3 separate regions of the Homo sapiens genome follow, and all the other regions are linked to region 1. Evidence: fine-mapped expression QTL. A gene starts in region 1. Each other region holds a variant in brackets. All regions are shown on one strand. Distances are between the middles of the regions. Region 1 holds the start of BCL2L13 (BCL2 like 13). Region 2 overlaps BCL2L13 (BCL2 like 13). Region 3 overlaps BCL2L13 (BCL2 like 13).

The links.
Region 2: its variant is fine-mapped to the expression of BCL2L13 in tibial nerve (GTEx, PIP above 0.99). The same link has a PIP of 0.9 or more in sigmoid colon.
Region 3: its variant is fine-mapped to the expression of BCL2L13 in whole blood (TOPMed, PIP above 0.99).

Annotation. Positions count from the first base shown.
Region 1 is chr22:17,632,847-17,643,642 of GRCh38, reverse strand. BCL2L13 (BCL2 like 13) reads right to left here and starts at 4,886. Exons shown (of 7, transcript NM_015367.4): 1 at 4,757-4,886. It also overlaps the pseudogene LOC124905160. RefSeq lists enhancers at 4,004-4,876, 4,645-4,924, 5,045-5,224, 5,275-5,324, 4,877-5,748 and 1 more and a silencer at 8,638-8,869.
Region 2 is chr22:17,723,256-17,734,051 of GRCh38, reverse strand. BCL2L13 (BCL2 like 13) reads right to left here. Exons shown (of 7, transcript NM_015367.4): 7 at 3,197-7,375. The coding sequence ends at 6,518. Among named protein-coding and RNA genes, the nearest start is that of MIR3198-1, 36 kb to the left of the region's middle. The variant T/CAGCCT (reference allele first, on the strand shown) is at 5,953.
Region 3 is chr22:17,685,039-17,695,834 of GRCh38, reverse strand. BCL2L13 (BCL2 like 13) reads right to left here. Exons shown (of 7, transcript NM_015367.4): 4 at 6,693-6,849. Among named protein-coding and RNA genes, the nearest start is that of BCL2L13, 52 kb to the right of the region's middle. The variant G/C (reference allele first, on the strand shown) is at 6,365.

The DNA of each region.
Region 1 (10,796 bases):
AAATAAATAAATAAAATAAAAATAAAAAAGCAAACAACAACAACAAAACATTAAGTTTCTTGGCTATCAGCTCTTTAGTCTCATGACTCACTGGTGGCTTGAACAGGGAATTTTTTTTAAGTTCCACAAGTTAACATGGAGTCCAAAGCTATTTTCTAATCCATGCTTTGCCAGCTCCTATTGAATTGTAAGACTTTCTCTGAAAGAGAGTAAAATAATTCTAATAAAAATTATGAAATGGCCGGGCGCGGTGGCTCACACCTGTAATCCCAGCACTTTGGGAGGCTAAGGCGGGCGGATCACCTGAGGTCGGGAGTGAAGACCTCACAAGAGTGAAACTGCATCTCAAAAAAAAAAATTATCAAATGGTAAAAAATTCACCCCACCCATCTGAAAAATGCAACTGGACAAGTATCATTTTTAAAACTCAGCAGACACTAAAACTCTAGTGTAGACACTACCCCCTTTCCAATTAAAACAGGCCTAATTGTTCAATCTTGTGTTAGAGCTACCCAAAAATATTTTCACTCAGCAGTTGGCATTTGCAGATAATTCAGAGAACTGCCTTACTTTCATCCCGTCCTAGATAATCTGACTTTCACAATAATTAGGCTTCCTGTATATGGCTTGTGTAAATGGAGGACATAAAATTCAGTTACTCTGTTCCACTTCCAGATATATACCAGAGAAAAATGAAAACGCATCTGCACAAAAATTTGCACATGAATGCTCAAAGCAGCATTACAGACCAGGTGTGGTGGTTCATGCCTATAATCCCAGCACTTTGGGAGGCAGAGGCAAGAGGATCACTTGAGTCAAAGAATTTGAGACCAGCCTCAGCAACATGGAAAAACCCCATCTCTACAAAAAATACAAAAAAAATTAGCTGGGTATGGTGGTGTGTGCCCATAATCCCAGCTACTTGGAAGGCTGAGGCAGGAGAATCGCTTAAACCCAGGAGGCAGAGGTTGAGGTGAGCTGAGATGGCACTATTGCACTCCAGCCTGGGCAACAAGAGTGAAATGCCATCTCAAAAAAAAAAAAATGCCCATCAACTTATTTTTAAAATGTGGTATGTCCACACAATGGAATAGAATGCAGCAATAAAAAGGAATAAAGTACTGATACACACTACATCTTGGATAAACTCTGAAAACATTATGCTAAGTGAAAGAAGCCAGACAGGCCGGGCGTGGTGGCTCACGCCAGTAATCCCAGCACTTTGGGAGGCCAAGGTAGGTGGATCACCTGAGATCAGGAGCTGGAGACCAGCCTAGCCAACATGGCAAAACCCCGTCTCTACTAAAAATACAAAAATTAGCTGGGTGTGGTGGCACGCACCTGTAATCCCAGCTACTCTGAGTTACAGTTACTGAGACTGAGTTACAGTCTCAGTCTACTTTGGGACTGAGTTAGGTTCAACCTGGGAGTCCGAGGTTGCAGTGGGATCATGCCACTGCACTCCAGCCTGGCGACAGTGAGACTCCGTCTCAAAAAAAAAAAAAAAAAAAAAGAGAGAAGCCAGACACAAAAGACCACATATTGGTCAGGCGCGGTGGCACACACCTGTAATCCCAGCACTTTGGGAGGCCGACATGGGCAGATAATAAGGTCAGGAGATGGAGACCATCCTGGCTAACACAGTGAAACCCCGTCTTTACTAAAAATACAAAAAATCAGCCGGGCGTGGTGGCGGGCGCCTGTAGTCCCAGCTACTCAGGAGGCTGAGGCAAGAGAATGGCGTCAACCCGGGAGGCGGAGCTTGCAGTGAGTCGAGATGGCACCACTGCACTCCAGCCTGGGCGACAGAGTGAGACTCATTCTCAAAAAAAAAAAAAAAAAAACACATATTATGTGATCCCATTTTTGTGAAATCTCCAGAATAGGCAAATCCATAGACAGAAAGTAGATCAGTGGTTGCCCAAGGGTGGGGGTAGGAGGACCAGTAATAAAGAATGACTGCTAATGGGTATGGGAGTCTCTTTTTGAGGTGATGAAAATGATTGTGGTGGTGGGTGCACAACTCTGTGAATATACTAAAAAGTACTGAATTGTACAATGGTGAGTTGTATGGTACGTTAATTATATGTCAATAAAGTTGTTAAAAAAAATCAGCTACTCCAATCCTTTTGCGGTTCATAAAGAACCAAGATGACTGGGTTTCATGCTAATGCATGACATGTGCCTCCCTCAAATCATGTTGCCTCATGGGCTTATTGGCACATTACCGTCTGAGGAAGAACAAGAAAAAAAAATAAACCAATCTGAAAATACCACCCACCCCCACTTTGTATATATATTAAACAAGAACTCTTGGTGAACATTTATTTGGAATAAGATACAAATCAAAATCCTGTCTAAAAAATGATAAATGCAGACTGGAACTAAGTGAATGTTTAACACTTGTGTTTTGTATGCCTGAAGTATTTCACAATAAAATACATATCTATTTAGGCCGGGCGCAGTGGCTCATGCCTGTAATCCCAGCACTTTGGGAGGCCGAGGCGGGCAGATCGCGAGGTCAGGAGATCGAGACCATCCTGGCTAACACGGTGAAACCCCGTCTCTACTAAAAATACAAAAAATTAGCCTGTCGCGGTGGCGGGCACCTGTAGTCCCAGCTACTCGGGAGGCTGAGGCAGGAGAATGGTGTGAACTCAGGAGGCAGAGCTTGCAGTGAGCCGAGATCGTGTCATTGCACTCCAGCCTGGGCGACAGAGCGACACTCCGCCTCAAAAAAAAAATATATATATATATATAAAAAATTAATAAACAAACATATATATATTTTTTGAGTCAGGGTCTCTGTCATCCAGACTGAAGTACAGTGGAGCAATCACAGCTCACAGCAGCCTTGATCTCCCGGGCTCAAGCAGTCCTCCCTCTCGCCTCAGTCTTCCAAGTAGCTGGGACCTATGCCTGGCTAATTTTTTTTTTTTTTAATTTTTTGTGAAGACAAGGTCTCCTTATGTTGCCCAGGCTGGTCTCGAACTCCCGGGCTCAAGCAATGCTCCTGCCTGAGCCTCCCAAAGTGCTGGGATTACAGTGAGCCATCGCAAACAGCCAAATGAAATGTTGTTAATGATTATTACTGTTGCAAACCACTTGTCCTAAAAGCTTAATGTGTGTGATATTTAATACATGTTGATTAGATTATGTGCTAGTAAACACAAGTCTGTTTTTTTACAAGACTGGTTAGATATAGCCTTAGGCATCTTTCAATTGAATTCAACTACTGGTCCTTGCTGTAGGAGACAACTAAAAATAAAATAAAAAGTGAATCCAACTACTGAATATACTCTTCCACATAAAAAATGAGCCATTGGAAAAAAAATACAGAACAGTACCTGACCATTCCTAGTAAAAAGATTTTCAATACCCTTAACTGCCTATTACCAAATGAAGAATACTTCACTTGGGGGAGAGAGGGTGTTAAAAATGAAAATAATACTTCATGCGGTGGCGCGGGGGTGGTTGAAAAAAAGGTATCACCGTGCGCGGTGGCTCACGCCTGTAATCCCAACACTTTGGGAGGCTGAGGCGGGGGGATGACCAGAGATTGGGAGTTCGAGACCATCCTGACCAACATGATGAAACCCCGTCTCTACTAAAAATACAAAATTAGCCCCGCGTGGTGGCGCATGCCTGTAATCCCAGCTACTCGGGAGGCTGAGGCAGGAGAATGGCTTGAACCCAGGAGGCGGAGGTTGCGGTAAGCTGAGATCGCGCCATTGCACTCCAGCCTAGGCAACAAGAGGGAAACTCTGTCTCAAAAAAAAAAAAAAAGAAAGAAGGTATCTGAAGGGTGTGGCAACTCATCCAAGGTCACACTAGTCAGGGCAGAGAGCAACATTCTGCTTTATACTAAACCTCCAGAGGAAATCTTATAATTTCGCCAAAGAAGTTTTTGTTTTGTTTTACGCAACAACAACAAAAAAATAAAAGTAAGGAGGGAGGGCTCTCAGCTTAGTTCAAACTTCTAAACAGAGACAGTGAGATAGCTATTTTGAATAAACAAACACTTGTGCAGGGAGTGGCTAAGAGCTAACCAAAGCCAGCAGTCAACAGCATGTGAACAACTGGCCAGATCCGTCCGATTTTCAACGCTAGGTTAGAGCCTCCACTCAGAAAGTCGGTTATGAAGGCAAGAAATAGGATCTTTACAGAATGTTGGGAGGATAAATCAAAGGGGGAAAATGACTCCGTGTGAACTGTACTGCCTCCAAGGGCAAGAAGGCAGTTTTTTTCTGAAAAAATAGGTGTCAGAACAGCAGTGAATTAAGGTTAAGAAACAAGACTTCTAACAATCTCTGAGAAGAAACGACTAAGACTGGCAAAGCTAATCTTCCAGTGTTCTAAGTGAATCGCAGGAAAACCTTTCCCTCAACCAAAAAGAAGTCGCCGTTCCCCAGTTTAGCCCTAAAAATGGACCCGGGTTTTCCACGTGAAGCTGTCTGTGGGGAAGGACAGCGGCGTGGAGCCAGGGCCGAGCTCCTCCGCCTCCGGCACCCCACGCCGGAAGAAGCCTGCTCAGCGGCGGGGCCGCGCGGCCAGGTCCGGTCACGGTGAAGCGGACCCCTAAGCTCCGAGCACCTTCGGGCGAAGGAGCGCCGGTGTAGACACACACACTCAAACTCACGCGTCGTCGGAACCACTGGGGAGTCGGTGGCTCGATACGGTCTCTGGGCACTTTCCTACCCAGGTGAAAACCACCTCCTCACCCAGCTCAGCCTTCCCGGAACCCCACTCCCCTCACCTGGCCCTGGCCCCTGCCCCAGAAGAGATGAAAGAGGCGGCGGCGGCAGTTGCTTCCGACAGGGTCCCCCAGCGGCGGTGAGTGCTCCGACCCGCGGCCCTAATCTACCGCCGCCGCCATGTTGGAGGGTGAGGTCACCCCGGCGTGCCTTCGTCACGGCCGGCGTCGGGGCGGGACCTGAACTACCTGACATCCGGAACGGTATCCGGAGCGGAAGGACCGACCAACGGAGGCCCCGGAGGTCTCTCCGTCCAGATGTGACCTGAAGACCCAAACCCTCCTAGCCCGCCCAAATCTGATTGCGACGTTCGGAAGTTCCGTCTCTCAGATCATTTCCGGAGTCGAGGGGTTGGGATTCTGACCGGCTGGTCGCTGTGTTGGAGGAAGGGCAGGCGATTCCAGGGAAAGAAGCCTTGCTGCATGCACAGGCTATGTTCAGTTCCACAAACATGTATTGCGTTTCAAGTGTTTGCCAAGGGAGCAGGTCAAATAAGTATCTACACAGTCACGACAGCCTCGATGTTCGCCACTAGTTGGGGCAGATGGTCCTTGAAGGTTGGGAAGGAATTCCGGGGAGGGAATATAGCGGGGTGGTGTAGAGAGGTCCTCCTAGGCGAAGGGAACTGGCTGAGCAGAGGCGCCAGGGCATGAAGGAAGTCTTAACTAGTAACCCGCTTTTGTTAACAGTACCTGGAACACACAGCGCCTGGAACATACTTAACTTGTATTAATGGATGTTTGTTTACTTGAATCCGAGAGTTCTTTGGAGGAGTATCGGAAGGTATCTAGGAGAGAGGATACAGTGTGTTTTAGGGAGATCAAATTGCCCGTGGTGTGTGTACTGAATTGGAACAAGGAGGGCATTGACAATAAGGAGTTAGAAGACTGAGCCAGATCAGAAGTGATAAAATCCTGATGGGGAGTGACTGCCAGTGGATACAGAGTTTCTTTTTGGGGTGATGGTGGCACGACTCTTTGAAATACTGAAAACTACTGAATTGTACACTATAGGTGAATTCTATGTTATGAGATCTATATCTCAACAAGGCTATTCTAAAGGAAGTGATAAAAGAGTTGAACTGCTATTGTGGGGCTGGTGCCACAGGATGCTTTTTAAGCCCGAGTGACTGAGGAAAGGATGGTGCCATTAATAGGGACATAAAGTTTTGCAAAGGAAAGGCTTAGTGACCTTGGAAAACTAATAGTACAGGCCGGGTGTGGTGGATCACTCCTGTAATCCCAGCACTTTGAGAAGCCAAGGTGGGCGGATCACTTGAGGTCAGGAGTTTCAGACCTGCCTGGCCAACATGGTGAAACTCCCCATCTGTACTAAAAACACAAAAAATTAGCCAGGTATGGTGTCACGCGCCTGTAATCCCAGCTACTTGGGAGGCCGATGCAGGAGAATCGCTTGAGCCTGGGAGGCAAAGGTTGCAGTGAAATGGGTAACCAAAAATGAAGACTTTTTTTTTTTTTTTTTGAGGCAGAGTCTCACTCTGTCGCCCAGGCTGGAGTGCAGGGGCGCGATCTCAGCTCACTGCAACCTCTGCCTTTCGGGTTCAAGCGATTCTCCTGCCTCAGCCTCCCAAGTAGCTGGGATTACAGGCACCCACCACCATGCCCAGCTAATTTTTGTATTTTTAGTAGAGGCAGAGTTTCTCCACGTTGGTTAGGCTGGTCTTGAACTCCTGACTTCAGGTGATCCACTCGCCTTGGCCTCCCAAAGTGCTGGGATTACAGACGTGAGCCACCGTGCCTGGCTTTTTAAAAATTTTTAATAGAGACGGGGTCTCACCATGTTGGCCAGGCTAGTCTCCTACTCCTGACCTCAAGAGATCCGCCTGCCTCAGCCTCCCAAAGTGCTGGGATTACAGGGGTGCGCCACCGCGCCCGGCCCTAATTTTACTTTTAAGGTCTGTGCAGTTCACTGTATGTACACTTTACCTAAAAAAACTTTCAAAAATGTAACATGCAATAATTTATTTTGGGAGGTACTTATGTTACCAATTTGGTACATACTTAAGTTCATTTCTTTCACATTGCTCTCAGTCTTTTCCTTTATTTATTTATTTATTTTTTATTATTATTTTCTCGAGACAGAGTCTTGCTCTGTCACCCAGGCTGTAGTGCAATGGCGCGATCTCAGCTCACTGAACCTCACCTCCTGGGTTCAAGCGATTCTCCTGCTTCAGCCTCCTGAGTAGCTGGGATTACAGGCACCCACCACCACACCTGGCTAATATTTTTTTTTTGTATTCTTAGTAGAGATAGGGTTTCGCCATGTTGGCCAGGCTGGTCTCCAACTCTTGGCCTTGGGTGATCACCCCTCTCGGCCTCCCAAAGTGCTGGGATTACAGTCGTGAGCCACCATGCCTGGTCTTATTTATTTTTTTAGAGACAAGGTGTCGCTTCTGTTACCCAGCCTGGAGTGCAGTGGTACAATCATACCTCACTGCATCATGGACCTCCTGGGCTCACAATTGTTCCACCTCAGCCTCCCAAGTATCAAGGACCACAGGCTTGTGCCACCACATGTAGCTTTTTTTTTTTTTTTTCTTTTTTTTGAGACGGAGTCTCCCTCTGTTGCCTGGGCTGGAGTGCAGTGGCAGATCTTGGCTCACTGCAACCTCAGCCTCCTGGGCTCAAGTGATTCTCCTGCCTCAGCCTCCAAAGTAGCTGGGACTACAGGTGTGCACCACTATGCCTGGCTACATTTTGTATTTTTAGTAGAGACGGGGTTTCAGTGTGTTGGCCAGGCTGCTCTCGAACTCCTGACCCCAAGTGATCCACCCACCTCAGACTCCCAAAGTGGTGGGATTACAGGCGTGAGCCACCGCCCCAGGCCACACATGGCTACTTTTTAAAAGATGTTTTTGTAGGCCGGGCGTGGTGGTTCACGCCTATAATCCCAGCACTTTGGGAGGCCAAGGGGGACGGATCACGAGGTCAGGAGATGGAGACCATCCTGGCCAACACAGTGAAACCCCGTCTCTACTAAAAATACAAAAAATTAGCTGGGCATGGTGGCGCGCACCTTCAGTCCCAGCTACTGGGGAGGCTGAGGCAGAAGAATCACTTGAACCCGGGAGGCGGAGGTTGCAGTGAGCCGAGATCGCACCACTGCACTCCAGCCTGGGCGACAGAGTGAGACTCTGTCTAAAAAAAAAAAAAGATTGTTTTTGTGGAAATGGGTATGTTCCCCAGGCTGCTCAGAAACTCCTAGCCTCAAGCAATTCTCCCATCTTGGCCTCCTAAAGTTCCTGGCCTTCCCTTTTTAATTTTATTTTTTGAATATATATTTTGAGACTAGACATACAGGTCAATGGAACAGAACAGAAAACCTAGAATTGTTAACTAATTTTCAACAGAAGTGCTAAGGCATTTCAATGAGGAAAGAGATTGTCTTTTCAGCAAATTGCATAAAATAATATAGCCCTTTTATAGAAATCATTTGACTTTAATCACAGCAGTTTATGGTATTTGGAGTTTTTTTATTTAATTTGCTTTTGTTTTAGTAGAGATGGGGTTTCACCATGTTGGCTAGGCTGGTCTCAAACTCCTGACCTTGTGATCCGCCCGCCTGAGTCTCCCAAAGTGCTGGGATTACAGGTGTGAGCTACCACACCCGGCCCTTTTTTATTTAATTTTTTAGTTTTTTTTTTGTAGAGATAGCGTCTTGCTGTGTTGTCCAGGCTGGTCTTGAACTTGTGGCCTCAAGTGATCCACCTGCCTTGGCCTCCTGAAGTGCTGGGATTATAGGCATGAGCCACTGCACCTGGTCAGTTTTCGGGGGAGTTTTGGACAGATTTTAATAGGCGCTACAGATCTCTAGCCTACAGGCTAATGTGGTTATCGACTCTAAACTAGACTCTACTCATTTTATTCATTTGCATTCATCAGTTGTTTGTTGCTTTTTTTTTTTTTTTCCTTTTGAGACAGAGTCTCCACTTCCACTCTGTTACCCAGGCTAGAGTACAGTGATGTGATCATGACTTACTCTAGCCTTGACTTCCCAGGCTCAAGCAATCCTCTGGCCTCATCCTCCCAAGTAGCAAGGACTACAGGCATGCACCAGAAAGCCTGGCTAATTTATTTAATTTTTTTTTGTAGAGGCAGGTGTCCCACTATGTTGCCCAGGCTGGTCTCAAACTCCTGGGCTCAAGTGATCCGCCTGCCTCAGCCTCCCAAAGTGCTAGGATTACAGGTGCCAGCCACCACGCCTGGCCAATCAATTGTTTATTGAATCCCTGCCATTAACCAGGCAGGGTGCTGGGTGCTAGCAAAAGCAATGATGAGTACATCAGACGCGGTCCCTCTTGTGAAGCTAACATCTTAGTTGGAAAACCAGAAAAGAAAAACATTGAAACAGAAAAAAGTAAAAATAATTTAAGATGATGGCATGGGCTGGGTGCGATGGCTCACGCCTGTAGTCCCAACACTTTGGGAGCCTGAGGCAGGTGGATCATAAGGTCAGAAGTTCCAGACCAGCCTGGCTAACATAGTGAAACCTCGTCTCTACTAAAAATACAAAAAATTAGCCGGGCATGGTGGCTCATGCCTGTGGTCCCAGCTACTCGGGAGACTGAGGCAGGTGAATGGCTTGAACCTGGGAGGTGGAGGTTGTGTTGAGCCGAGATCACTCCACTGCACTCCAGCCTGGGCAACAGAGTGAGACTCCGTCTCAAAAAAACAAAACAAGACAAACAAAAAAAAGGTGGTGGCATGTCCTGAAACAGACAAGGGACTGGAATAGAGAAGAAGGTGAGAGAGTGACCAGGATAAGCTCTCCTCAAAGAGATTTTGAGACCTAAAGGATGAAAAACAAGTTAAGTGGTAAGTGGAGGAAAATAACTTCTCAAGCAGAAAAATAGATGTTTTCAAAAAAACTGAAAGGCAACCAGTAAAGCTTTGAGGTGGTGTGCAAAGGGAGGAGGGGTAATGAGGGCAGGCAAGCATACAGGGCCAGATCCAGTGGTCTCATCTACTAGAGCCAGCGGAAGGCTTCAGGAGCAAGCAGAAGCCATGACAGAGTTGTAAATTGGGGAGTGACTTGATGCCATCTGCCATCTAGGTTTTAAATCACTGTAGCATAGAAATTTGGCTGGAAAGAGGCAAAAAGTGCAGACACCTAAGTTAGAGTTACTATTTTTTGGCTACACTTTGTTTTTTCCTTTTCAAATTATTTGCTCAACATTTAAAGACAGATGATTTACATTTACTTCTAGTCTTTCGCGCTTTGTCCTCCTGAGCAAACTCCAGAGTTAGCTTATTTATCCTGCTGATTCAGTATCTAGTAAACCTGCCTGGGAGTAGGTGAGAGCACATGAACCGTCCCTTTCTGACTAACCTGACAGGAATCTAGGCCAGTGACTTTGGTGAAGCCACAAATAGGCTTATCTAGGAGGGAGTTTTTTGAAACTTGTCTGAAAATATGTTTTAAAGTGTCTCCACAAGGCCTAAGAATGTAGGAGAAAATTACATTTGGAAAACTACCAACTGGCTCATCTTTGCATGTATTCATAACAACTTTTTCCCTTCAGAGGTTATCTCTGTAAAGCTTACATTCTTTTCAGACAGGACCTGGCCTGTTCCTTGGTGAATCAGCAAAACTGAAGAAAATTGAGTTTTAAAGAGAAACTAACATGGGGGAGAAGTGGGTGCTGCAAAAGGGGATAGTAACTATACCTACGATTTGTTTTTCAAGTGAAGTCTTGAAGTAAATGTGACAAATGTTAATTGTTAATTTTGGGTAGTGGTGCATGGTATGGGAATAAATTATTCTTTGTACTTTTTTGTATTTTCTAATGTCTCAAAATAAAAATAAGTAAATCGTGGTCAGGCGCAGTGGCTCATGCCTGTAATCCTAGCACTCTGGGAGGCTGAGGCGGGTGGATCACCTGAGGCCAGGAGTTCGAGACCAACCTGGCCAACATGGTGAAACCTTGTCTCTACTAAAAATACAAAAATTAGCTGGGCATGGTGGCACATGCCTGTAGTCTCAGCTACTCGGGAGGCTGAGGCAGGAGAATTGCTTGAACCC
Region 2 (10,796 bases), 90 kb before region 1:
CATACGTCAGCCATTATAATCAGATTCTCACTGGGGGAGGCATTTTCTTCCCAAAGGAGCTGTATGCAGTCATCACCCGGAACTAATGGGAAAGTGTTCTTAAGCAGCAAGTGACTCTGGACCACCTCTCTCACACACTGACTCTTCCACAGCATCTTCACCTGCTTCTGTTTCACTTGAATTCATACAGTAGGCCACCATTTTATAACAGGTCTTAGTGTAAATTCTTCCAGACCAAGTCTGAGATAGTCTTGGTTGTAAAGCAAGACCGTCACCCCTTCTCCCAAAGCCAACATTATAAAAAGATTCCATTGTCTCAAACACAAATGTTCCAGTCTTGAGCACTTCCCAGCCATGGTGACTCGGGCATATCCTGGCAGTTGGTGGATTTTGCCCTGTAACACAATCCTTGTGGATATGATTCAAAGGTGACTTTAATTCAGAGAATGTGTTTTCCTTTCTGTTTTAAAAATATTTGAATTAAGTGATGGAAATTCTTTTGTTAAACATCAAAAGCTTTCTCCTTGAAAAGATGCTTGGTGTATCTGAAAGTCACGTGGGACATTTGGTGCATTCAGAAGGTCAAATCATTCCTGACCTCTCCTCTTAGGACCCAGCATTAACTGCTGCGATACTCAAGGCTTCCTTAAAGGATCACAGCACTGGCGCCTAGTTTTACTGTCCAGCAACTTTATTAGTTGTGCTAGCTGAGAATTGGAATATAGAGTCCTTTGAATGTTACGATCTTGTTTTCAAAACCTGGAGTCAAACCAATTAAGTATGGACTTAACAAAGACAATTGATGATGTGAAATGATACCACCTGTCAAGGGCATAGTTACCATGTGGATAGAAAGATGAGTCCACTGATTATCTTCAAATCCCATGTATTCTCTCTAGCACGTTGCTTCTGACAGAAAGAATAACTCACAGATTTGAAGTTTGTTCCTTTCCCCTGATGAAGAGTAGATTGGCCAAAAGGTAGATGACAGGAAGGAAGAGGAGCCAGAATGACCCACAGTGATCAGTTCAGCAGTGCAGAGCGGCAGTGCAGAGGCTCATGGAACTCACACGGAAAAAGGAAACACATGCTGCTTAAAATGCACGATAACTTAATTATCCAAATTACCATTCAATTCCGGTATTTTTGAGATGAAAGCATTTGAGCCAACACTAAATTGACCTTAATTAAGGAATGAGGTAGGAAGAGGCACTTTTAATCTGGAGGAAGAAATAAATGGAAGACTGTAATAGGAAAAATACAGGTCTAGGAAAAAAATAATTTTTTTCCTTTGATGCTGGCCAAGGACCCCTCTACATAATACAGTTCTCCTGCTGGAAAGCATCAGGGCAAACAGAGTTATTCCAAACTCTGCAACAGGGAAGACTGTACTTTGACCTTCTTTTCCTGGGGAAAGGGAACAACTAGTAATCTTTAAATGTCAAAACTTTTCTTCTAAATAGTACATTCATTAACCAGTTTCTTCTGGTGGTGCAAAGAACACTCACCACAGTGAGCAATACCACTATTCAATTTCCCCTTTGGAGAGGTGACAGCGGGGTAGAATCACCTGGAGTCAGCTGCTAGTCTTTAACTGATGACAAGGCCTTGCAAATACCCCTGAGAACAATTTCACTCTGAGCTCACAGGGAAGCAGCAGTCTGGTGTGGGCTCCTGTGGTGTAACCATCAAATGTGGAAGACCTGATGGTGTTAGTGTGTGGGGATGCCGGGCTGAAATTCAACAGCCTTGCAAAAAGAAAGGGAAGATGGGATGTGTTAATATTGTAGTGGCATGCACTTTCCAGCTCTCCATGGAGCTCTCTTTATATATGAGGTAATTGAATGTCACTATTCTGTACCATACAGCAGGTATTATCTAGCCAAGGTTATAATTACCATGAAGTGCTGTGGAATGTAGTAGGAGGCTTTTCACTGGGAAGATCCTCCAGGAGCTGACGTACTTGTGGCCATACCTGGTCAACCCTCCTAAGTCCCCAACCTCTTTGTCTGTCCAGAGGCCAAGCAATGCTTCCAGGTATTCCCCTACTTCACTCCACAGCCCCACCCTTATGATGGCATACACAGGGGAGAAGGGACGAACTCGAACAAACAGAAAAAGACCAAGAAATGCATCGTGGTGCTGTCTTCACCCCCCTCATTTAGCACTTTGTGATAACTGCTGGGACAGATTGCCTAACCTTGTCTACAAGCAAAAATATTTAATCAAGAAAGCTAATGAAAGCTCATCGGCAATGACTGTGAATTCTGTAACCACAAAGCATCTCACTCAATGTCTACAGGGAAAACAGCTACATAATTGGAAGCTGAGACCAGTCCTGGACCTAACCCTCACTCTTGTTTTTTTGTAGTAGAACATGCTTAATGTTTAAGTGAGCCTATATGGTGCCTTTGTACAAATTAGAAAAATACTTCGCTTCTCCCAGAGCCCACAGCATGGTGAGCAGAGCACAGGCTGCACGTCGGAATTTGTCCCCAGTCAGTCCTTATGCAGTAAACAACTGGCGCAACTGTTTGCAGGGGACCTGCCAATACTGCTTTGCAGTGCCAGGAAAATGATAAAAACCGGCAAAATCATTGCCTTGCCTCGCCTATGCTTGAGGACGTTAGAAAAACTAACTCTGGGCCGGGCACGGTGGCTCACGCCTGTAATCCCAGCACTTTGGGAGGCCAAGGCGGGTGGATCACGAGGTCAGGAGATCGAGCCCATCCTGGCTAACATAGTAGAGACCCTGTCTCTACTAAAAATACAAAAAAAGCAGCCGGGTATGGTGGCGGGCGCCTGTAGTCCCAGCTACTTGGGAGGCTGAGGCAGGAGAATGGCGTGAGCCCGGGAAGCGGAGCTTGCAGTGAGCCGAGATTGTGCCACTGCACTCCAGCCTGGGCGACAGAGCAAGGCTCTGTCTCAAAAAAAAAAAAAAAAAAAAAAAAGGAAAAAGAAAAACTAACAAACTCTGATTAGGTTCTTCATTCTGTAATATGGGAATAAAAGGAATACAAACAGCTATTAGAACTGTGAAGGTGAAATAAGGTATGTGAGAGCACTAGAACCGTCTCTGGCATGTTATAAATGCTCAACTAGTATTTGCTAAAATATAATTATCGACATGAATTTTTTTTAGGAAAAATTATACACCCTAAACTCAAATGAATGTCATAATTGAGAGATTATCACTAAGGGCAGGTTTTGGTGCACCAGAGAAGAGGAAACATTATTCTGGTATCCAGTATGTCGCTGAGATGTTAAACGAGATAATGCTTGTGTGGGAATTTGGGCAGAAGCTCTAGGTCGTGTCTGTTAGCAATCAGATAGCCTACAAGGCCGTCTTGATGGGTATGATCACCACCTCAAATTCTTGGAAAGATAAGTTTGTGTGGAAAGATGTAAGAAATTAAGAGAAAGGGAAAATTCTTAGCTACAAAACGTTTTATTTCTATAAAACATCTCTTAAAATAATTCAAACACTGAAATGTCCACATCTCATACCTTTCAGGAGAAAGGCAAGGAGACTACTTGCCTTACTGTCATATTATTGAGGGAATCAGCGCAAAGCCTGAGGAAATGAACAGTAGCTGTGGGTCAAAGCCATGTCTCCAGGTTCACGGCTCACTCCCCCAGGACAAGCCTAGTTAGGTAGTGGCTGCATCTGGTATCCCTGGGACAGAAATGCAGGTGAGAAGGGGTATCAAGAATGCCTCGAGGGGGAGATGGGTGAACCAGAAGGTCAACAGTTGCATTTCTTCATCTAGAATGTTCTCTAGAAGGGAATGATGATCATGAGAGTCCCCTTAAGGCACACCGCAGGTACTGACTGATTTCTGTGGGCCCAGAATTATCACTTTAATACAGAGAGGATAAATTGGCGTTGTTTTTTCCCCCCAATAAATCATTACCTTCAACAGAGCAGTTGAGATGAGGTCTAAGGACTAACAAGAACTTTTCTATAAACAAGTTGGATTTATTCTGAATCTTTCCTTCACCTTAGACTTAGAGGGTATAAGTTGGAGGTGGAAGGAATGGCCTCCTACTATCAGCTCCTCCCCCCAAAAGGAGGGGAAGCTTGAGAAATAGTTTTTTAAATGTATGAGCAAAAAGCAGGAGCTGCAGTAGGAAGCAGTCCTCATGAGGGCTGTTCCCTTCCACTGCTGGAGGCAGAGGGTGAGGACGTGAAGGAAGAACAGGGATGCTGCCACATCCTGTTAACTCAGGAGCTGACCAAGAGCTACCAGAGAAAGCCAATGGAAAACACTATCTAGTTCCATTACCGTGAAATACAACTGGCCAAATCACTGTGGAGGAATGTCTAACAGGTGGGAAAATAAAGCAGCAAGTAGCCGCTTCCATACCACATTTCTTCCTTATTCTTTCCTTTCGTGGGCAACACAGGCTCCAATTTCCTAAGCCTCACACCTCCTTTCAGCAGCTCAGAGATGAACCTGGCTTCGATTGGTGCTTGAATGCGCTCAGCCAATGGGTGTGAGGATCCAGAACTGGCAAGTGTTAATACTGGAACTCATAGGATTTATTACTTTTTAAAAATCAAGATAACGCACCAGTTTGCTCTTCACCTATGCAAACACAAATATAGCAATTAGAATACAGAACAATCAATGCAACTATCAGAGCCCATGAAGAAAAAAATCATTGCCTCAATAATCCCATTCCCCCCACTCACCTCTAATTACTTAATCCAAGTACACAAAAACCCTTAAAACATCACTCCCTAAATGGGACACTAAAACACAGAACAAAGACACGCTACAGGATAAAGCTGGAAAGACACACAAACATACTCCCAGACCTTGTTTTGACCAATTTTTAAATATTGCTTTAGGGAGATTTTATTTGAAAACATAAATTTCAAAAAGAAAGCACATTTAAAACATCAGGTTTTGGTGATCAGGGTAGGTAAAGTATTTTTATTATAAATTTCAAGATCTAAAAAATAATTTATTACATTTACTAAGATAAATCTAAGATGACCTTTTTAAACCAAGCCACGTGTGCCCTGCATAGTGACGTCGTGGCCCTCGGGCATGGAAAGACACGGGTCTGCCCTTCCTTTAGGGCTGGAAAGACACGGGTCTACCCTTCCTTTAGGGCTGGAAAGACACGGGTCTACCCTTCCTTTAGGGCTGGGATCAGCCAGAGGAAAGAAAATTATGCCGATGCTCAACTAGCATATACTGATTAGGACTATTTTGGTTTATTACCCTGGCATTGAAGAATTCAGGTGAAGATGCCACCACTCTTGAACTCTGAAAGCCAAACTAGAATCTGCAGAGCAGCCTCAGTCTTAAAATTCAAGCTTCTTTTTCCTACTTTTTATTTCAGTGATATTTAGGACACTCTCTATTTCATAAGAATTATGATCTAACTGGCTCTATAAGCCCAAGAATAAAAATCCTTACCCCCTAGCAAGAGACCCATAGAACTCATCAGTAGTAAGACTAAGGTCCCATATTGGAAAAAATATACTAGCCCAAGGTTATAGACAGGGACCATCCAGCAATAGAGATGTTGCTGGCAAGTAACCATGGTGGTGGGTGACCACTAGCGAAAAGGGCTGAAGAGACCTCAGAAGGTCATCCAGGTTATCCTCCTGCCTTGACACAAGACACATGTGTCTCTCTAGCCAGAGTTACTTGCAGTTGCACTCACAAGTGGGGACCCCAGGTCTCCTTCATGTGATTTTCTCTGTGTACATATTTCGAAGATTCCCAAAGGCAGCATTTTTACAAGGTGGAGCTGCAGGAAGCTTCGGGGACTTGACAGACTGAGTCCAGAGCAAGCCCTCGCCCGTGGGATCTTAGCAGGAACCTGGGGGTGAAGAGGAACAGTGCAGTCCCTGAGAGGCAGCTGAGAGTACGGGCGAGCACCCTCACACTCCAGGATGAGGGCGGGGGGCAAAAAAAGAGTGGGTGCAGAGCC[T/CAGCCT]GCTCATCGAGAAAGATGAAATTCTAAGGGGATTAAGAGCTAAGAAGTCAGTAGCTGAGGAGCCCACAGCTAAGTTCTCTCAGCTGGGAATTTCTATCCCAATTCTTCCTAAGTAAACCCTCTCTCGCTAAAGCAGTGGGTCTCAATAGGGGATGTTCACACGGGACATTTGGCAATGTCTAGAGACATTTTCGTTTGTCATCTCTGGGAGGGGGTGCCACTGGCATCTAGTGGGTGGAGCCCACCACACACAGGACAGCCCCAACACAGAGAATGGTCAGAACAGCACTAGTGCCAAGGCTGAGAAACCCGGTCCTGGAGGGGGTGCTTTACCCCTAAGATTCTCAATTTAGCATGAGCGGAGGCCCTTGGGATTTACAGTCAGATGAATGTGAATGCCCCACCTCAAGCCCTAACATGCCTAACATGCCACTGCCATGTTGAGCAGAAGTCCCCAATTATCCCAGAGTGTTCCACAAATGTCCAGACAGCTGCTGGAGGTTCAAATTCCAGCCAATACAACTCCAACCTTACATCCTTCTGTCTTTCTCTTCTGAAAAGCCTCCTATTTCTTTCTCAGAGCCAGGGCTACCCCGATGGCCACTGCCAGGATGGCAACAGCAGCAGCCCCTCCAAACAGCAGTATAGACTTGCCCTCAGACAGCGGCATGGGCTTCATCTCACCGGCGGGGGACAGTCTAGACTTGCCCTCAGACGGCGGCACGGGCTTCTTCTCGCTGGCAGGGGACAGCTCTTCCACAAGGCTCTCTTCCCTTGCGTTTATCTCCTTCTCACTCAGCAGCGTTTCTGTGGGTTCCAGTGCGGGGACCACCTCCTCCACTTCAGTAGGTTCAGTTGTTGCTGCTTTCACCTCTTCTTCATCAAGTTCTACAAACAGAGATGTAGCAGGGCTGGATTTCTCAACTGTGATCACTTCTGTGTCAGGTTCCCTTGTCCCCAGCAGGGAGGTGGCAGTGATATGTGGAAGCAAGGGAGCTGGGGCTTCAGGAAGTGCCTCTTGCAGCTCCCGCGCTGGCAAGACCACAGAAGCCACAGCAGCCTCTTCCATGCCCTCGGGCACCTCTTCTTTCTCCACGTGCACAATGTCAGAATTAGAGGAGTTGTTCTCACTCTTCTCTCCAGCTCCGTTGCTGTCTAAGCTTTTCACTTCTTCAGGATCCATTGCAATCTGCTGCCAGGACTCAGGGCCTAGTGACACTGGCAGGCTTTCTGTGTGCCAACTCTGGCTAGCTGACAGTGACACAGGTAAGCTCTCAGACTGCCAGGAAGTGGTCACAGTTGGAGACTCTGGGGGACTGACTTGTCCAGAGTTGTCGCTGGGCAGGATGTAAATGTCATTGCTATCTTCTGCAGTGATTCCAGGGTATTCCTCCTCCTCTGACTCAAGACTAAACACAGTGCCCTAGAAACGAAGGACAAGCGTCAATAATAAAGAATGGTAACTATTTAAAACATAAACATCAATCTGGAAAGCAAATTCTTTCCTAAACTGAAGTTCTAGGAATGAAACACTGTTTAAACCTACATAGTTTCCGAATGGAATGCATGTATTTGTAGGCCAATGCAGAGAAAGAATTTTTGACAGTCTTCTGAGCAGTCTCCTTGAAACTAAAAAATCCTAAGTTAATATACATTCAGTGTAATTCACACACAGGCTGAGAGCATCCTAATCTGAAAACCTGAAATCTGAAATGATCCAAAATCTGAGGTTTTTTTTTTTTTTTTTTTAAGATGGAGTCTTGCTCTGTCTCCCAGGCTAGAGTGCAGTGGCACAATCTCAGCTCACTGCAACCTCCGCGTCCCAGGTTCAAGCGATTCTCCTGCTTCGGCCTTCCCAGTAGCTGCAATTATAGGCACCTGCCACCACGCCCAGTTAACTTTTGTATTGTTAGTAGAGATGGGGTTTCACCATGTTGGCCAGGCTGGTCTGGAACTCCTGACCTTCAGTGATCCACCCGCCTTGGCCTCCCAAAAGTGCTGGGATTACAGGCGTGAGCCACTGTGCCCGGCCCAAAATCCGAAACTTTTTGAGTGCTGAAATGACATCACAAGTGGAAAATTCCACACTTGACCTCATGTGGTGGGTTGCAGGCAAAACACAGTCAAAAATCTGCTTCATGCACACAAAATATTATATATATTTATGTTATAAATATTGTATATTTGTAAATTAATATATTAATATTATATAAAATTACCTTCACGCTATATGTATAAGGTGCATACAAAAAGAAGTAAATGTCATGTTTGGGCTTTCCCATCCCCAAGACATCTCATCACATACACACAAACATTCCAAAATCAAAAAAAAAAAAATTAAAATCCAAAACACTTCTGATCCCAAGCACTTTGGATAAGGGATACTCACCCTGTATGTTCAATGCAGTAATTAATGCAAAACAGCAGAGAAAACAAAGGCAAGACCTTGTGCTCAAGGAATTTATCACTTAGTAGGGTATACAAATAATGCTATGTCATAGTCCAAGTGCCATTAAGAGTTCATATGGCAGTGTTGCTTTCCTTAGAAGAAGAAGAAAAAAAGTTCAGATGGGAAAAAGACCTCTTTGGGTAGAGGTCAGAGAAAGCAGGGAGATCACAGAAAGCCTCACGGAGGGACTAGCATTTCTATCAGACATCTGAAGAATGGGTAAGATTTTGGCAGGCGAAGGGTACACAGAAGACACAATGCAGGCAAAAGCACAGAGACAGAAAAAAAAGAAGATAAGGACAGAGCCCTGTTTAATTAATGCAGAGTGCCCATGAAGAATAGAAGGTCAGTGAGGACAGGACCATGGAGGAACCTGAATGACAGCTAAGAAATATGGACTTTATCCAACAGGCGATGGTTTGTCACTGACATCTCTGAGGTACAAAATTATAATCAGAGCTTTGCTTTAAAATTCCTCTGATGGCAGAGACAGAATGGAGAAATGCTGCAGACACGGAGACTCTTGCTTCTTTTGTCAGGAAGTCTGAGTGAAAGCAATAAAGCCCTACAGCACAGGCCTTGTGTCCATGTCTATTAATAACAGGCCACCGTGTGCCTACTGCTTATCAGGGTTGTGTCAGGCACAAGGGCTACGAGAAAGAATGGGTCTATTCTTACAGAATTTACTAGGCAGCTGTGAAGCCTGACATATGAATAACTAACTTCAATATGATACAGAAAGCTTTATGACAGGTGTATGCACAAGGGGCTAGGCCAACCCAGAGGGTAAGGCGCAATAAAAGGACAGGAAGAGAACCAATGGAATGGAATGTCACAGAGATGTACAGAAATTGTCATACAAAGGCTAGACAACACTCGTAAAAGCTACAGGGAATCTGAATGGAATATGTAAAGCAAATTAATTTCTACTTCATTTTATGATTATGGTTGCTATTCAACTGAAGTAGGATAATTTCATTCTTCAACCAAAACCAAAAACTTTCTACATACATCAAGGATCTAACATAAATCAAAAGTCTATCAGCCCCATAAAAAAGGAAATAAGAAATACAAATAAATCACACGACCATGATGTCGGCATCATACTGCACCACTTTCTACCTCGACCCTTGCTCCAGCCACTTCAGAGGCCCTGGTAAGCATCAAGGATGTTCTATGAGTATGGAATAATCAGGGGGTTAAAATAATACAGTATGACCACAAAATTCACAGTCAAAAACAACTGGCTTGTATCCCAGCTCCAACTGTGTACCAGCTGTGCGAATCTGGATACCTTGCTTAAACTTTTAGACTTCAATTTCTTCACAAATAAAATGGGGATGACTGACTAGATAAGATTGTTTTTGTTGTATTTTTAGAGTTGGGGTCTCGCTCTGTCACACAGGCTGAAGTGCAGTGGCAGGATCACAGCTCACTGCAGCCTCAACCTTCTGGTCCCAAGGGATCCTCTAGCCTCAGCCTCCTGAGTAGCTGGGAATAACAGCATGGGCCACTGCACTCAGCTAAGTTTTTTTATTTTTTGTAGAGACGGGTCTCTCTATGTTGCCCAGGCTGGTCTCAAACTCCTGGCTTCAAGCAATTCTCCCACCTCAGTGTCCCAAAGTGCTGAGATTATAGGTGTGAGCCACCACACCTGGACTTGAGTTCATTTTTAAAATGAGGTATAGTTTGTTTTTTGTTTTTTTTTGTTTTTTTTTTGAGACGGAGTCTCACTCTGTCATCAGGCTGGAGTGCAGTGGTGCAATCTTGGCTCACTGCAACCTCCGTCTCCCAGGTTCAAGTGATTCTCCTGCCTCAGCCTCCCGAGTAGCTGGAACTACAGGTGCACGCCACCATGCCCAGCTAATACTTGTATTTTTAGTAGAGACGGGGTTTCACCATGTTGGCCAGGATGGTCTCAATCTCTTGACCTCGTGATCCACCTACCTCGGCCTCCCAAAGTGCTGGGATTACAGGCGTGAGACACCGCGCCCGGCCCGAGGTATAGTATTTATAGTGCTTAGATTAGTACTTTGTACATAGGAAGTAATCAGTAAGTTATGCTATTTCATAACTTGCTATTGTTTGTGTTGTCATTTTAATTGTTGTTTTTGGTGGTATGGTGGTAGGACAAAGAGCTATTCTAAAATACCAACTGGATGGGACAATAAGGAAGTGAAAACAAATGGAAACAATACCCTCCCTTGGCTAAAGAAGGTAATTTACAAACTTTTCCTTCCTCCTCCATCTCTTCTAAGCAGAGATAACACAAAACTGTAAAGTAAAATCTGTCTTTAAAAATTACAGTACTGCAGTATACAATTAGGAAAATTGGAGGGCCCATTGGCTTGGAAGAGAGGGCTTCTAGGCCTCCCAGCTTTTGAGGATGACAGCT
Region 3 (10,796 bases), 52 kb before region 1:
TTATTAATACAGGATAAAATAATAACAAAAATGATCTCATTAGCACAATGAAAACCAGAATTTTAACTTTTTTTAAAGGTAAAAAATCTAAAATATTTTAAAACTAAAGAGACATGTCACTGGAAGACTTTTCATATTGAGGAGACAAGAGTTGAAATAAATATCGCAATAAATTGAGTCCACTTTTTAAATTTTTAATTAAAAAAATTTTTTTTGGCTGGGCATGGTGGCTCATGCCTGTAATCCCAGCACTTTGAGAGGCCGAGGCAGGTGGATCACGAAGTCAGGAGATCAAGACTATCCTGGCCAACATGGTGAAACCCCGTCTCTACTAAAATACAAAAAATTAGCCAGGCATGATGGTGTGTGCCTGTAGTCCCAGCAACTCGGGAGGCTAAGGCAGGGGAATCGCTTGAACCAGGGAGGCGGAGATTGCAGTGAGCCGAGATCGCACCACTGAACTCCAGTGTTGGGAGTTTACAAGAAACGAAGGCTCAGGGAAGGCTGAACGTTACCATGCTAGATTTAACTATTGGCATGAATATTTTGGTCTTTCCTTCTTCCTGAGTATCCAGGAAAGTATATTTTCCAGCCCCTTGCAGTTAAGCAGGGCCATGTGGTTAGCCCAGCCAATGAAATGTGGGTGGAAGTGATGGGTGCCACTTCCTGGCTGAAGCAGGAAGAGACTTTCTGTAATTATCCAGTCTCTTTCTCTTTCTTGCCCTGATGGTGGTAGACGAGGCTGTGTTGAGGTCCTGGAACCATAAGTTCCAAGTGGTTCCTCGCATTGCTACGTGGCCACACCTGTAGCAGATTTGCATGACGCCAAAGGAACTTTTCTCTCGTGAAGTCACTGAGATTGAGGGATTGCAGCAAATCTCAGCCTACCTCAATTAATACATCCTACAGCTGGGAAGTGGTGTGGCTGGGATTTGAACTCAGATCTCTCTGACCACAGACTGAAAACAGAATCAGGGAAGACGGTTGTAGATTCAGGGACACACATTTTCCCCACCACCTGCATTTTAACATTTTGAAATCAGGTTTCATCTGATAATCAATGGCACCTCACCACAGTTGTTGGCCTGTTGGATGTTAAGATTCTGACACATGCCATGACAATGTCTCGATGTCACATGTAGCTAATGAGCATTAGAAACGTAGCCAGTGTGCTGAAAGTATAATATACACACTAGATTTCAATGAGGAAGAAAAAACAATCTAAAATAGCTCAATAATTTTTTGTACTGAATACATGTTGAAATATTTGCACTGGTGACAGTGCAAGACAGTGCAAGACTAAAAATTAAAAAAAAATTTTTTTTTTTAAATGGAGTCACCTATGTTGCCCAGGATGGTCTCAAACTCCTTGGGCCCAACTGATGCCTCCTACCTCAGCCTCAGTGCTAGCTGGGATTACAGGCCTGTCCCACCACCCCTAGCTGGAGTCCTATTTTTAACTTGGAGTGTTATGATACAAGGGTAGAGAGATAAGCCTTTCTGATTATTTCTATGTAAGTCCTAGTCATACCAAAAACTCGAATCATTAACAACACTCACTCATTTGTTGAGTGACTTCAAGTACTTTATTTAAAGCACGGTTTCATGCATAAATTTTAAAAACAAAAGACTTGGGGACCAAGTAACATATGAAGGCATCAATTGTTCAGATAACAGATTTAAAATTAAAAAAATCTATTAATTAAAAATTAATAGATTAAAAATTTACCTTCCCTCCTTTTGGGCAAAGTATTAACAAACATGTTAAGAAAGAATGGGCTGGGTGCAGTGGCTCACGCCTGTAATCCCAACACTTTGGGAGGCCAAGGCAGGTGGATCGCTTGAAGTCAGGAATTCAAGATCAGCCTGACCAACATGGTGAAACCCGTCTCTACTAAAAATACAAAAATTAGAAAAAAAAATACAAAAATTAGCCTGGTGTGGTGGCACTCGCCTCTAATCCCAGCTGCTCAGGAGGCTGAGGCAGGAGAATGGCTTGAACCCAGGAGGTGGAGGTTGCAGTTGAGCCGAGACTGCGCCACTGCACTTCAGTCTGGGCAACAAGAGCGAAACTCCATCTCAAATTAAAAAAAAAGAAAAAGGAAAGAAAGAAGAGAAGGAGTCTTGCTTTTGCAGAGTTTTAAAATCCCACCCCAGCCAGGTGCTGTGGCTCACGCCTGTAATCCCAGCACTTTGGGAGGCTGAGGTGGGTGGATCACCTGAGGTCAGGAGTTCAAGACCAGCCTGGCCAACCTGGTGAAACCATGTCTCTACTAAAAATACAAAAATTAGCTGCGCGTGTTGGCGCATGCCTGTAATCCCAGCTACTCAGGAGACTGAGGCTGGAGAATTGCTTGAACCCGGGAGGCGGAAGTTGTAGTGAGCCGAGATTGCACCACTGCACTCCAGCCTGGGTGACAGAGCGAGACTCCGTCTCCAAAAAAAAAAAAAAAAAAAAAAAACAAACACTAAATAAATAAATAAATAAATAAATAAATAAACTACCCCAAAGGCATTTTTCTGCTCTGTCCACTGTGACCTATGACTTCCTTAGTTTAAGAATATTTAAGATTGATAATAGCTACCACTTACTGGTAGCTTATTATGTTAGGTTTTAATATTTCATATATTTATATTTTATATTACATATTATTATATCACATATTTGGAAACCAAAGCTCAGAAAAGCTAAGAAATTATCCCAAACCCACATAGCCGGAAAGCAGCAAGGCAGGAATTCACACTCAGATCTGGTATCAAAGGCCATTATACTACTCCCATTTCAAGTTAAGATTCTGACACATGCCATGACAATGTCTCGATGTCACATGTGGCTAATGAGCATTAGAAACGTGGCCAGTGTGCTGAAAGTATAATATACACACTAGATTTCAATGAGGAAGAAAAAACAATCCAAAATAGCTCGATAATTTTTTGTACTGAATACATGTTGAAATATTTTAGATGTACTGGGCTAAATAAAATATTAAAAATTTTACATTTCATTTTATTTTTTACTTGGCTGCTAGTTTTTAATTACATTTTAAAACCACATTATATGTGACTTGCATTGAATCGCACTGGTCTAGATATTTCAGAAAAGAATCCTGATGACACAGGCATCATTCTTTCACCTAAGTCTGTATCAAATCAATACTACAGTGATGCTGAAAGGAAATGAGATACCAGAGATGGCCTCTGTAATGATGAAATGTATACAGCATATGCTATCTTCCTGGCATCACCTTCCCATTAAAGTGAGCCTAGTACTTTTCAGATGCCTTGGGCTAAGTAGCAGATTCGTGTAAACCTTGAACTTCAGCAGATACTACACAGTCTACCTACCTATAGTTTCCCTGAAGCTTTACTTGCATATATCAGTCCCCTCACTTCCTTTCCTGAACTGTTTGGTGCTGCTGGGGGTCACAGTAGTCCTTACTGGTTGTTTGTCTACCAGGCTAAAGTATTTTAGCATCGTTCTGAATGAAACATGATTTGAAACATCATATACACAGACATACATGCACAAAAAATGCAGCAGATTAAAACATTCAAAGGAAATCAAATACATAGAAAAGTAAGTAGCTAAATAACCAATCCTACCTAGTGAGCTATTAGAATAGAGCAAAGAAGAAAAGAGCGGGGCAGGATACCTTTTTGAAACAGCTGTTGTTCTTCTGTAAGAAGGGTTCAGCAATAACTTCCTACATTAACAAAACCTTTTGGAGGAATCAGTGGTATTTTCTACCTTACGATACTGCCTTCAACGTTTATAATACTTCTAGTTTATGTAGTTTATCATCCATTAGTTATTTTCAAAGTACTAGTAACAGAGCTTAAAACTTCTAAAAACAGATTTCTGAAAAAAGAAAGAGACCTGACTTTGATACATAACCAATTTCAAAAATAATTCTATCAAGATTTGGGAAAAAAATAAACATTTGTCCAAGCCAATTCTCCTTTAAATAGAATTTGCTGTGAGAAGACATCAATTTTTCCTGTAGATCATAAAAAGGACTTCAGAAACAATACTTTTAAAAACTTACATAACACTGTTTTTTGAAGAGCTTATACTACACCATAAAGTTAAAATTAACACATGGAGAACTGAAATATTAAGGGTGACATGGTTTGCTCCAAGCCAAAGTCTGTATCAAATTTGGAAAAAGATTCTTTTTTTTTTGTTTTTGAGACAGAGTCTTGCTCTGTCACCCAGGCTGGAGTGCAGTGGTGCAATCTCGGCTCACTGCAAGCTCCGCCTCCCAGGTTCACACCATTCTCCTGCCTCAGCCTCCTGAGTGGCTGGGACTACAGGCACCCACCACCATGCTGGGCTAATTTTTTGTATTTTTAGTAGAGACGGGGTTTCACTGTGTTAGCCAGGATGGTCTCAATCTCCTGACCTCGTGATACGCCCGCCTCGGCCTCCCCAAGTGCTGGGATTACAGGCGTGAGCCACCGCGCCCAGCCAGGACAAAAAGATTATTTTAAAAGTCTGCACCTTTCACTTCATTATTTTACTCCTGGTCCAGATAACTTTTACATTTTTGTGGAGAGAGGAGTGAAGCAGCAAATTTCTTTCTTCAAGTCTTAGATGTAACCTCAGAATATAAAATATATGAAAGTACACGTGCTCTGGTTAAGAAAAGTGGGAAAATAAATAAATAAGGCTAGGTACAATGGCTCACACCTGTAATCTTAGCACTTTGGGGAGGCTGAGGTGGGAGAGTTGCTTGAGGCCAGGAGTTATAAGACTAGTCTGGGTAACATAGTGAGACCCTGTCTCTACAAAAAATTTAAAATAAATAAATAAATAAAAAAGAAAGAAGAGTGGAGAGGCCCTAATGAGCTTAACCCACTTACTATCCCTCACTTCTTCAGGACCCCTGCAGCACCTCTATGCCTAAGGCTCCATAGAACACTTTTTGAAAACAACTGCTGTAAATCCAAATTTCCTGTGTAAGTTTTATTTCCCAACACCCATATACTTCTCTCCATATTTATATTTAAATTTTACTATATATTAGGTTAAGAAAATCCAAATACGACTTTTTTAATTTTTATTTTTAGAGACAAGGTCTTGCTCTGTTGCCCAGGTTGGAGTGCCACAGTGGTGTGATCATAGCTTACTGCAGCCTCAAACTATTGGGCTCAAGTGATCCTCCCACCTCAGCCTCCCAAGTGGCTGGGACTACAGGAACATGCCATCACACTGGCTAATTTTCTAAACATTTTTTTTGTAGAGACAGGGTCTGGCTATATTGCCCAGGCTGGTCTTTAACTCCTGGCCTCAAGCAATCCTCCCGCCTGGACCTCCCAAAGTACTGAGATTACCAAATACGATTTCATTTCACTGTTTAAGCATAATTAGTATTTTTACATTTGCTCATTTCACAATACTACGCAACAAAAAATCAAATTCTCCTAAAACCCAAATTACTTTCTTCTAACAAACGGTAATCGATATATACTTTGCTTACAGGAAAATAAAAAAAAAATTTTTTTCTTTCAGATGGAGTCTCCCTCTGTCATGCAGGCTGGAGTGCAATGGCATGATCTCAGCTCACTGCAACCTCCGCCTCCTGGGTTCAAGCGATACTCCTGCCTCAGCCTCCCGAGTAGCTGGGATTATAGGCACCTGCCACCATGCTCAGCTAATTTTTGTATTTTTACTAGAGATGGGGTTTCACCATGTTGGCCAGGCTGGTCTCCAACTCCTGACTTCCAGTGATACCTCCACCTCGTCCTCCCAAAGTGCTGGGATTACAGGCTGATTTTTAATATTTATAATAAATGATTTGGTTCTATTTTAATACTTTCCTTATTACTAGCTTCTTGCCTTTAGCTTTAATATGGTCAGAACCATAGCTAGGAGAGAAGTTCCTTCTATAAGAATGTAGAAGCAGTTCCATTGGCAGATGTGCAACCCTAAAGTTGAGCAACTTCTGGGATACAGATATAACGGTTTTTTGGGTTTTTTTTTTTTTTTTTTGAGATGGAGTCTCGCTCTGTCACCCAGGCTGCAGTGCAGTGGCAGGATCTCGGCTCACTGCAACCTCTGCCTCCCGGGTTCAAGTGATTGTCCTCCCTCAGTCTCTCGAGTAGCTGGGACTAGAGGCATGCGCCACCATGCCCGGCTAAGTTTTATATTTTTAGTAGAGACGAGGTTTCACCATATTGGCCAGGCTGGTCTTGAACTCCTGACCTCATAATCCGCCCACCTCGGCCTCCCAAAGTGCTGGGATTACAGGCGTGAGCCACCGCGCCCGGTCAATAAAATGTTAAATACAGAATTCTAAAATACAGATATAATGTTAATCCCACATTACAACGCACAAAACGCTAGCCATTATATTCATGTCAC[G/C]ACTAGAGGAAATGGCAGTAAAAAGTGGTCTGGGGAAGTGAAATAGCTTGTATTTACTACTTGGTAAAAGCATTCGGTGAAACCTGACAGCTCAACATATAAATACAAATTAACAAATCTATGTTGGAATAGCTAAATCACTCCTTTAAAGCAAAGCTGTCATTCAAAACACAGAGATGCTTTGGGAAAGAAAATGAAGAAAATGTAAAGAAAAGTGAGAAAAGAAGTGACACTGTTCACCTAAAACACAGCCCTAACCAATCCAGTGCTGCATGAGAGATCCAGAGACTACTTAAAGAAGCACATCCCACTCAGCAGTGTAACTCACTGGCTCAGGAGCATTTGCAATGCTTTATGGAGAGGCTCTTTCAGTTCCTGGGACACTTTTTCTCCAAGATGGGCCAAGCAGTCTTCCATTGAGCTTTCTGGATTGGCAGGGCTGAACACTGGAGAAGTGTGACGGTCAAAGCCTGTGCTGGTGAAGGCTGAAGATAGGACAAAAGAAAAACCTAATATAATAAACAATATCTATAAAATTAGCTGGGTGTGGTGGCACATGCCTGTAATCCCAGCTACTCAGGAGGCTGAGGCAGGAGAATCACTTGAACCCAGGAGGCAGAGGTTGTGGTGAGCCAAGATCACGCCACTGCACTCCAGCCTGGGCAACAAGAGGGAAACTCCGTCTCAAAAAAAAAAAAAAAACAACAATATCAAAAGTTGCGCTATAAAAGGCCACAGGATTAAGACACCCACTATTAGGAACAAGCTAATCATTACAAGCCACTTAAAAAGGTCAGATAATCATTGTGGACATTAATCTTTGTTGGCACGTAAACATTGATAGGTCATAAATTTAGAGGTTCTTTTAGGTTTTAATGAAAAAGCTTAGATTTAAGAGAAAAGAAACAACTAAACTGACATGTTATAATAAGCTAATCAATTTAGTTTATGATTACTGACCAACAAGTATAATAATGATAAATGAGAAGCAATTCCTGGCTCTATTATCCTTCTCTTAAAATTCTGTTTTTAAGATTTTGTTTTACATTTATAAAACTGGCACTTATATCAGATTCTAATCATCCTCAGAGGATGAGTCCATTGCTTTCATTTCCTTATTAAAATGAACTTTCAACCTTAATATTACTACACATGGATAAATTTTCAAACTATTATATGAAGATTATACAAACAAGTATAAAAGTTGAACCAGAAGCCGAGCACAGTGACTCATGCCTGTAATCCCAGCATTTTGGGAGGCTGAGGTGTGCAGATGGTTTGAGTCCAGGAGTTCGAGACCAGCCTGGGCATCATGGCAAAACCACATCTCTACTAAAAATACAAAATATTAAGGCCGGGCGCGGTGGCGCATGCCTGTAATCCCAGCACTTTGGGAGGCCAAGGCTGGGCAGATCACCTGAGGTCAGGAGTTCGAGACCAGCTTGACCAACATGGGGAAACCCCGTCTCTACTAAAAATACAAAAATTAGCCGGGCGTGATGGTGCATGCCTGTAACCCCAGCTACTCAGGAGCCTGAGGCAGGAGAATCGCTTGAACCTGGGAGATAGAGGTTGCAGCGAGCCAAGATTGTGCCATTGCACTCTAGCCTGGGCAACAAGAGTGAAACTCCTTCTCAAAAAAAAAAAAAAAAGGGGCCGGGTGCGGTGGCTCACGCCTGTAATCCCAGCACTTTGGGAGGCTGAAGCGGGCAGATCACGAGGTCAGGAGATCGAGACCATCCTGGCTAACACGGTGAAACCCCGTCTCTACTAAAAATACAAAAAAATTAGCTGGGCCTGGTGGCGGGCGCCTGTAATCCCAGCTACTTGAGAGGCTGAGGCAGGAGAATGGTGTGAACCCAGGAGGCAGAACTTGCAGTAGGCCGAGACTGCGACACTGCACTCCAGCCTGGGTGACAGAGCGAGACTCTGGCTCAAAAAAAAGAAAATAATAATAATAATAATAGCTGGGTGCTGTGGCACACGCCTATAGTCCCAGCTACTGGGGGGCTGAAGTAGGAGGATCACTTGAGTCCAGGAAGTCAAGACTGCAGTGAGCCCTGATCATGACACTACACTCCAACCTGGGCAACAAAGTGAGACTCTGTCTCCCCAAAAAATAACCAAATTAATTAAATAAAAATAAAATAAAACTTGAATCCAGAAAAAGCAGTCATAACTTGTTGTAGACACTTAACCATTCCCTAACTGCAGGAAGAGCAAGCAGAGTAACTTGTTCCAGAGTACAAATGCGATGCAAGGCATCAGCTACCAGGAAAGCAGGCCGCTTGCACCCACTCCCAAGATTTAGCCGTCATCTGCATTAAGTATTTATTGCATTAATCTAACGCTTACTCCTATAAGGCTGCAAATTTTACTATAAAGTATGTGTTTCTTTATAAAGTGCTTGCCTCCGAGAAAGATGCAAATGGCTGCAAAGTTCACAAATACTTTGTTGTTTGAGCAAGCTGGAGAGCATCCATTTTAATGGTCTAACTTAGATAATATGGGGTTCAATAAGTGAACGTATTTTAAACCTTTTGTTACTCTCTTCTTCTTTCTACCTTTTGCCCATTTTACTATGCAGCAGTGCTGTTACCAGAATATACATGAAGAGAATCAGAAATTTAATCATTTCAAAATGTTGATAAAGAAATATAATGGTCGGGCACAGTGTTTCACACCGGTAATCCCAGCACTTTGGGAGGCCGAGGCGGGTAGATCACAAGGTCAGGAGATCGAGACCAGCCTGACCAACGTGGTGAAACCCCACCTCTACTAAAAATACAAAAATTAGCCAGGCATGGTGGCGGGCGCCTATAATCCCAGCTACTCAGGAGGCTGAGGCAGGAGAATCACTTAAACTCGGGAGGCGGAGGTTGCAGTGAACTGAGATCGCACCACTGCACTCCAGCCTGGGTGACAGAGCGAGACTCTGTCTCAAAAAAAAAAAGAAAAAAAAAGAAATATAAAAGACAAGACTAACATTAGGTTTCAGGATTATTTGTACATTTCATTTTTTTTAAATGGTCTCACTCTGTCACCCAGCCTGGAGTACAGTGGCATGATCTTGGCTCACTACAACCTATGCTTCCTGGGTTCAAGAGATTCTCATGCCTTAGCCTCCGAGGTAGCTGGAATTACAGGTGTGCACCACCATGCCTGGCTAATTTTTTTGTATTTTTATAGAGGCAGGGTTTCACCATGTTGGCTGGGGTCATCTCAAACTCCTGGCCTCAAGTGATCCACCCACTTCAGCCTCCCAAAGTGCTGGGACTACAGGCACCGCACCTGGTCTCGGGATTATTTGTACATTTCTATCTGTGTTTTTTCTCTACTAACGAGGAACATGAGTTATGAACATAATTTATAATTTTGATCATTAAAAATTATTGGGCAGGCTGGGTACGGTGGCTCACGCCTGTAATCCCAGCACTTTGGGAGGCTGAGGTGGGCGGGTCATGAGGTCAGGAGATCAAGAACATCCTGGCTAACACGGTGAAACCCCGTCTCTACTAAAAATTACCAAAAGAGTAGCTGGGTGTGGTGGTGGGCACTGTAGCTCCAGCTACTCAGGAGGCTGAGGCAGGAGAATGGCGTGAAGCTGGGAGGCGGAGCTTGCAGTGAGTCGAGATCCCGCCACTGCACTCCAGCCTGGGCAACAGAGCGAGACTTTGTCTCAAAAAAAAAAAAAAAAAAAAAAAAAAAAAGAAAAAGAAAAAATTATTGGGCAATATATGTCCACACAAAAACTTGCACAAGAATATTCACAGCAGCATTATACATAATAGTAAACAAGTAGAAACAACCTAAATTTCCATTAACTAATGAATGAATAAACAAAATATGACACATCCACACAGTGGAATATTATTTGACTGTAAAAAGTAATGAAGTACTGATACATGCTACAACATGGATGACCCTTGAAAACATTATGCTAAGTCGGCCAGGTGCAGTTGTTCACGCCTGTAATCCCAGCACTCTGGGAGGCCGAGACAGGTGGATCATTTGAGGTCAGGAGTTGGAGACCAGCCTGGCCAATATGGTGAAACCCCGTCTCTACTAAAAACAAAAATTAGCTGGGCGTGGTGGTGGGTACCTGTAATCCCAGCTATTCAAGAGGCTGAGGCTGGAGAATTGCTTGAACCTTAAAGTCGGAGGTTGCAGTGAGCCCAGATCATGCCACTGCATGCCAGCCTGTGCAACAGAGCAAGGCGATGTCTTAAAAAACAGCAACAACAACAAAAATACATTATGCTAAGTAAAAAATGCCAGTCACAAAAGACCACATAGTGGCCAGGCGCAGTGGATCACGCCTTTAATCCCAGCACTTTGGGAGACCGAGGTGGGCGGATCACCTGAGGTCAGGAGTTCAAGACCAGCCTGAGCAACATGGAGAAACCTTGTCTCTATTAAACGTACAAAAAAT